Linked DNA regions of Homo sapiens. The protein of the gene in region 1 interacts with the protein of each later gene in a biochemical or structural test. Each region holds a gene or a part of one and is shown on either strand. Other genes may lie near its edges. The genes, in order: TAF12 and NFYB.

Region 1 (3,831 bases):
CTTGCTTCCTTGTTTAAATTTTGTGGACTATTTCACTTAATATTTGGAAATGAGATGGTTTCTAAATATCAGCTGAGAGTAATAAACATTCTTCATTCCCTCAATTTTTAACCTGTGGATATTAAATGGTCACCATTCCATATATACTGAAGAACCCTCAAAGTCTAACAGACCTCATTTTACTTACTTTTTTTTTTTTTTTTTTTTCTTGGTAGAGACTAGGTCTCGCTATGTTGCCCAAGCTGGTCTTGAACTACTGGGCTCAAGTGATGCTACCACCTGGGCCTCCCAAAGTGCTGGGATTACAGTTGTGAGCCATTGCACCAGGCCTCTTTTTACTCTCAAGATTCATCCTTTATTACAGGTTCTTCTAGAGCTAATTCTTGTGCTTTTCTTCTCCAGTTAATTGGCCTTGGTCCTCACAGCTCCAAAAAGAAACAGGATCTCGATAAGCTCTATGAGCTGAAGTCCAAAGCTCGGCAGATTATGAACCAGTTTGGCCCCTCAGCCCTAATCAACCTCTCCAATTTCTCATCCATAAAACCGGAACCAGCCAGCACCCCTCCACAAGGCTCCATGGCCAATAGTACTGCAGTGGTAAAGATACCAGGCACTCCTGGGGCAGGAGGTCGTCTTAGCCCTGAAAACAATCAGGTATCATCCTCTTACTCTTTCTTCTCTGTAGCCACTTCTTACCTATTATTTCAATCTGTAATACTTTAAGAGATGTCCATCTCAGATGCTGCTTTTTTCTCTTAGCCGAAAAGGTCTTTTCCCTCTTTTGGATTTCTAACTTTTTTTGTTTGTTTTAATATAAGTAGAGAGTTTATTTGGGCCAAATTTGAGGACTCCCAATTCAGGAGACACAGATTCAAGTTGTCCTGAATGTATACTCCTCTGGGAACATTCTTTAGCAAATTATCATGTACAATGTTTATTAATTACTGTATTGTATGTGGTTGTGTGTATGCATATATACATCCATCCATCCATCTGTACACACTAACACAATACCTTGCCTATGAAAGGTGTTTTTTTCCTTTCATTTTGATAAGTGCTTTATATACATGTTAACCATGTAGTTGTTAAATAAAATAATAAATTGATTCATTATTCCTATGATAAAAGTACTCTTGCTTCTAGTCATTCCATCTTCTAGTTCATCCAATTGCTGCCATTATTAATTTTCTGCAGTGATTCTAAAATCTGCTCCATTCTTTCTACCCATAATTCTGATTCTGCCCTCCAGAGCCACAAGAAATAAGTATAATCCCTTTGACTTGTTTTTTGTAGGCTGTGTAGAATGGATGAGTTCGCCCAGTATTTCAAGGGAATGAGTGGAGGGACTTGCAAAGATTAATGAGAGCGGGTTGGGCAGTCAGGATATCAACCTATGTTGAATATGGAGTCTGTTGTAGAAGACAGAATTTAAAATTGTATAGGTAGGGCAGAACATAGTGGACCTGTACTAGTCAATTTCCATTGGAACTTTTAGGCAATATACAATCTTTGCAGATATTTAATAAAGGAGTAAAAGTAACATAATAAAAATAGTGTGTCCTATAGAGGATTAACTTGGCAGTAAGGGGACAGGATGGGTAGAAAAGGGGGTTAGACTGGGTGGATGACCAATTCTAAGATTTTTGCAATAAATCAAGACATGTAGTGAAGGCTCGAATTAGGTGATAATGATAGAATGAAGAAGAATGGATAGATATGAGACATCATTAACAAATATTTATTCATTTTTTTTAGAGAAAGGGTTTTGCTCTGTTGCCTGGGCTAGAGTGCAATGGTATAATCATAGCTCACTGTAGCCTCAAATTTCTGGGTTCGGCCGGGCATGGTGGCTCAAGCCTGTAATCCCAGCACTTTGGGAGGCCGAGGTGGGCGGATCACGAGGTCAGATCAAGACCATCCTGGCTAACACGGTGAAACCCCGTCTCTACTAAAAATACAAAAACATTAGCCAGGCGTGGTGGCAGGCGCCTGTAGTCCCAGCTACTCGGGAGGCTGAGGCAGGAGAATGGCGTGAACCCAGGAGGTGGAGCTTGCAGTGAGCAGAGATTGCGCCACTGCACTCCAGCCTGGGCGACAGAGCGAGACTCTGTTGCAAAAAAAAAAATTATTTTCTTGGGTGTGCGCGGTAGCTCACGCCTGTAATCCCAGCACTTTGGGAGGCCAAGGCAGGCGATAACCCAAGGTCAAGAGTTCGAGACCAGCCTGGCCAATATGCTGAAACCCCATCTCTACTAAAATTACAAAAATCAACCTGGCATGGTGGTGCACACCTGTAGTCCCAGCTACTCAGGAGGCTGAGGCAAAAGAATCACCTGAACCCGGGAGGCAGAGGTTGCAGTGAGCCGAGATTACACCACTGCACTCCAGCCTGGGTGATAGAACGAGATTCCGTCTCAAAAAAAAAAAAAATTTTTTTTCTTTTTTCCTTATTTCAAAAGTTATATGTGTTCATCACAGAAACTTCAGAAATACACAAAGAATAAATAGCCTATAATTCTAATGCCACCACCCTAAAATAGCCATGGTTAGCATTTTAGTGTATGTCTTTTGGTGTTTTTCTTTTTTTCCTCTGTCTGTCTCTCTCTCTTTTTTTTTTTTGAGACAGAGTCTCGCTCTATCACCCAGGATGGAGTGCAATGGCATAATCTTGGCTCACTGCAACCTCCTCCTCCCAATTCAAGCTATTCTCCTGCCTCAGCCTCCCTAATAGTTGGAATTATAGGCACCCACACCATGCCCAGCTAATTTTTGTATTTTCAGTAGAGACAGGGTTTCGCCATGTTGGTCAGGCTGGTCTCAAACTCCTGACTTCAGGTTATCCACCCGCCTCAGCCTCCCAAAGTGCTAGGATTACAGGCATGAGCCACCGTACCCGGCTTTTTTTTTTTTTTTTTTTTTTCAGTGGAATTTTACTAGAAGGTTTAGAGCAGGAAAGAAAGGAAAGTACACTTGGAAGAGACTCAAATGGGCACTGAGGAGGTCAAGTGCCTAACTTTTTCTTTTTTCTTAATTTATTTTTTATATATTTTTTAGATTTTTTTTTTTTTTTGAGATGGAGTCTCACTCTGTTGCCCAGGCTGGAGTGCAGTGGCGCAATCTCGTCTCACTGCAAGCTCTGCCTCCCGGGTTCACGCCATTCTCCTGCCTCAGCCTCCCAAGTAGCTGGGACTACAGGCGCCCGCCACCACGCCTGGCTAATTTTTTTTTTTGCATTTTTAGTAGAGACAGGGTTTCACCGTGTTAGCCAGGATGGTCTCAGTCTTCTCACCTCGTGATCCGCTCACCTCGGTCTCCCAAAGTACTGGGATTACAGGCATGAGCCACTGCACCCAGCCATTTTGTAGATGTTTTTTTTAAATAGAGATGCAGTCTCGCCATGTTGCCCAGGCTGGTCTTTGAACTCCTGGGCTCAGGTAGTCCTCCCACCTCGGCCTTCCAAAGTGGTGGGATTACAGGCGTGAGCCACTGTGCCAGGCCCTTTTTTTTGTTTGTTTCTTAAGACATGAGGTCTTCCTGTGTTCCCCAGGCTGGAGTGTAGTGGCACAATCATAGCTCACTGCAGTCTCTAACTCCTGGCCTCAAGTGATCCTCCTGCCTCAGCCTGCTGAGTAGCTGGGACTACAGGCACAGATCACTGTGCCTGGCTTTCTTTTGATTACTTTTTAATGGCATACGTATGTAACATGACATTTCCTTTATGAAGGCTGCCCTCAGGGAGCTTTTAGCCTATTAAGTCAGAAACAGGGAAGTATATAAATATGCACAATGATAAAGGGTACACAGGATACAGTAGAGGCCAAAGGAGGAAGT
Region 2 (2,643 bases), on another chromosome or scaffold:
CAAAAAGAATAGATGAGAAAATACAAATCCTCACTTTTCAAAAAGAAACAATCCAAGTACATACTACTAAATTATACAAAGTTACATTATTTACGTTTAGTTTATTGCAGAGATGAAGACAGCATACTAGAAGTTGGCTTCTATTTCACACCGTTCACAGCACTCACTCTGTTCTCCATTTCATCCACTCACCCATGCAAAAGGTCTGTACACGCAATGATGTCTGATGTTTCTTGGTTTCCATAGTGTAACAGGAAACTTGACATTTCAATTAAAAAGGTAAAATGAAGACATTTACCATCAGACTATAAAACTCCTCTTCTGTAAGAGAATACTATAGTACTTGAAGATATGATTTGAAAAAAAATCATGTACCAAATGAAAGGGGCACCATTTCAAGAGCACTAGGACTACATTAAACTTAAATATATTCCCACATTCTTAAAAATGTAACTCAAAACCAAATCTAGTCTTAAAAAAGCTCCAGTAACTAAAACTACATTAACAGGCACGATGAACAGTGTAAACACTGTTAATGGGCACCAAGTTTAACAGGGCAGACAATATTTGCTTCTGCATTCACACTTATTCAATTACATTTTTTAAAAAAATGATGCTGCTTAAACTATTAATGTTTTACCAAAAAAATAATAATTTTAATAAATACAGCAAATGCTAGAAATCTAGCTAGGTTATCATGCAAGGTATAACCAAGACAAACTCAAATTTATAATAAAGGCAACTTGCATTCAAAATGAACTCTACCCTTATATTTTATTAAAAGGGCAAACATCATGAATTAACCCAGCCGCTTACTTGAATTACAAAAGTAACATGATTCAATATGAAAATAAGAAACTGTCTACAAATCTCTGACAGTAATAAATTGCAATATACAATGCATACAGGAGTCATACAGAGCAACAAACTCTCGTACAAAACAAAAATATTTTAATACCTTTAAAATCCAAATTTTTCTTTAAAATCATTCATGAAAAAGATTCTCAAGTCAGAATTAACACCTCAATTAGTCAAGCATCAGGAAGCTACATTACAGCTATTAATATACAAAGATACATCTTTTCACCAGTCTTTCCTTCTGATGTCTCTGTTCCAGAATCATACAGACTCTCATTTCTCTACACTCCCCATTCCATCATTTCTTCAGATCATGAAAACTGAATTTGCTGAACACCAGAAATCTAAGATTAGAAAATTTAAATTGAGCAGAATTAAAGAAAAGGAGATTAAAAGTACCATATGCATATTATAAAAATTCAGTGAATAAAAAGACAATAACAAGTCTAATTCCCATTTCTTGTGTATCTTTCTAGAAATCTCCTATGCAAATATGAACATATGCTTATTTTTAACTATTAAGAGAACACTATATACTGTTATCTACATTGAGAAAACACAATTTTAATAACCTTCTTTATCAGGTCCTTAATAGCATGTTGAAATTAACTATATCAATAGATATAATAAAAAAAAAATTTTTTTTTTGAGACAGAGTCTCACTCTATTGCCCAGGCTGGAGTGCAGTGGTGTGATCTCAGCTCACTGCAACCTCCACCTCCAGGGTTCAAGTGATTCTCCTGCCTCAGCCTCCAAGCAGAGGGGATTACAGGTACACGCCATGACGCCCAGCTAATTTTTGTATTTTTAGTAGAGACAGGGTTTCACCATGTTGGCCAGGCTGGTCTTGAACTCCTGACCTCAGGTGATCCACCCACCTCGGCCTCCCAAGGTGCTGGGATTACAGGCATGAGCCATGGGGCCCTGTCGATACAATCAAATTTTTTAAGCATTTAAAATACAAAGGACTGTACCTGTTGATATGATGTTGTGTAAACCATAACATTTTGTTGTTGACCGTCTGTGGTTATTAAGCCAGCTGGTAACTGGTTAGCTAAAAGAAAAAAAATTAGTTAAAGAGGGAAATGAACTATATCTACTTTCTTGGGTTGTATCTTAAGGTTGTACCATTAATGTCTCATTACAATTCTGCCCGGTATCAATGATGTAGTCTTGGACAAAATAATAAATCCTCCAATTTTCCATTTTAAAAAATGTTCCCTAAAAACCACATTATTTTATATTGCGTTTTTCAATTTTCCTATCTCTAACATGTACCTTAGCTAACTGCCCATGTGTACAAATCTGTAGACAGACTGGATGAAGTTTCTGATTCATGATTAAACTACACTACACCATGAGGTTTGGCTAGGAGCAACATATAACTGAGCAGCATATAGTTTACATATGAGAAATATATATAATGAGAAATTTACTCAACATAGCCCTTTTATTTCACCAATATGACAACATGATACTCAATTTAAAAAAAACTGAGTTGAAATTTATTTAAATCATAAGATTTTATATTACAAACTTTTCCTTAATATTCCTATCTCATATGAATCTTCACCAAAAACTAGGGGCTACAGAACTCAGTCAGAACTATCAGTGAAAGGTTATAATGTCTACAGAATTAAACTTTTCTACACTTATCACTCACTGACTTCAAATAAAAGGGCATGAACTGATAAGAACTATTTAAAATAGTGCTTTGTCAAAATACTCACTGCTGACATTCCAAAAATACCATTAGATACTTAGTATGAATCATTGCTAACAATC

Evidence for each region.
Region 2: the proteins of TAF12 (region 1) and NFYB form a complex in vitro, tested with the Homo sapiens proteins (one study listed by BioGRID).

What each region holds. Positions count from the first base shown.
Region 1 is NC_000001.11:28,618,737-28,622,567, reverse strand, and holds part of TAF12 (transcription initiation factor TFIID subunit 12), read left to right. Parts: intron 1-402; coding exon of another isoform or gene 403-486; coding exon 487-654; intron 655-3,831. UniProt on the Homo sapiens protein: The TFIID basal transcription factor complex plays a major role in the initiation of RNA polymerase II (Pol II)-dependent transcription.
Region 2 is NC_000012.12:104,118,568-104,121,210, forward strand, and holds part of NFYB (nuclear transcription factor Y subunit beta), read right to left. Parts: intron 1,913-2,643; coding exon 1,833-1,912; intron 1,203-1,832; coding exon 1,170-1,202; coding exon of another isoform or gene 1,165-1,169; 3' UTR 1-1,164. UniProt on the Homo sapiens protein: Component of the sequence-specific heterotrimeric transcription factor (NF-Y) which specifically recognizes a 5'-CCAAT-3' box motif found in the promoters of its target genes.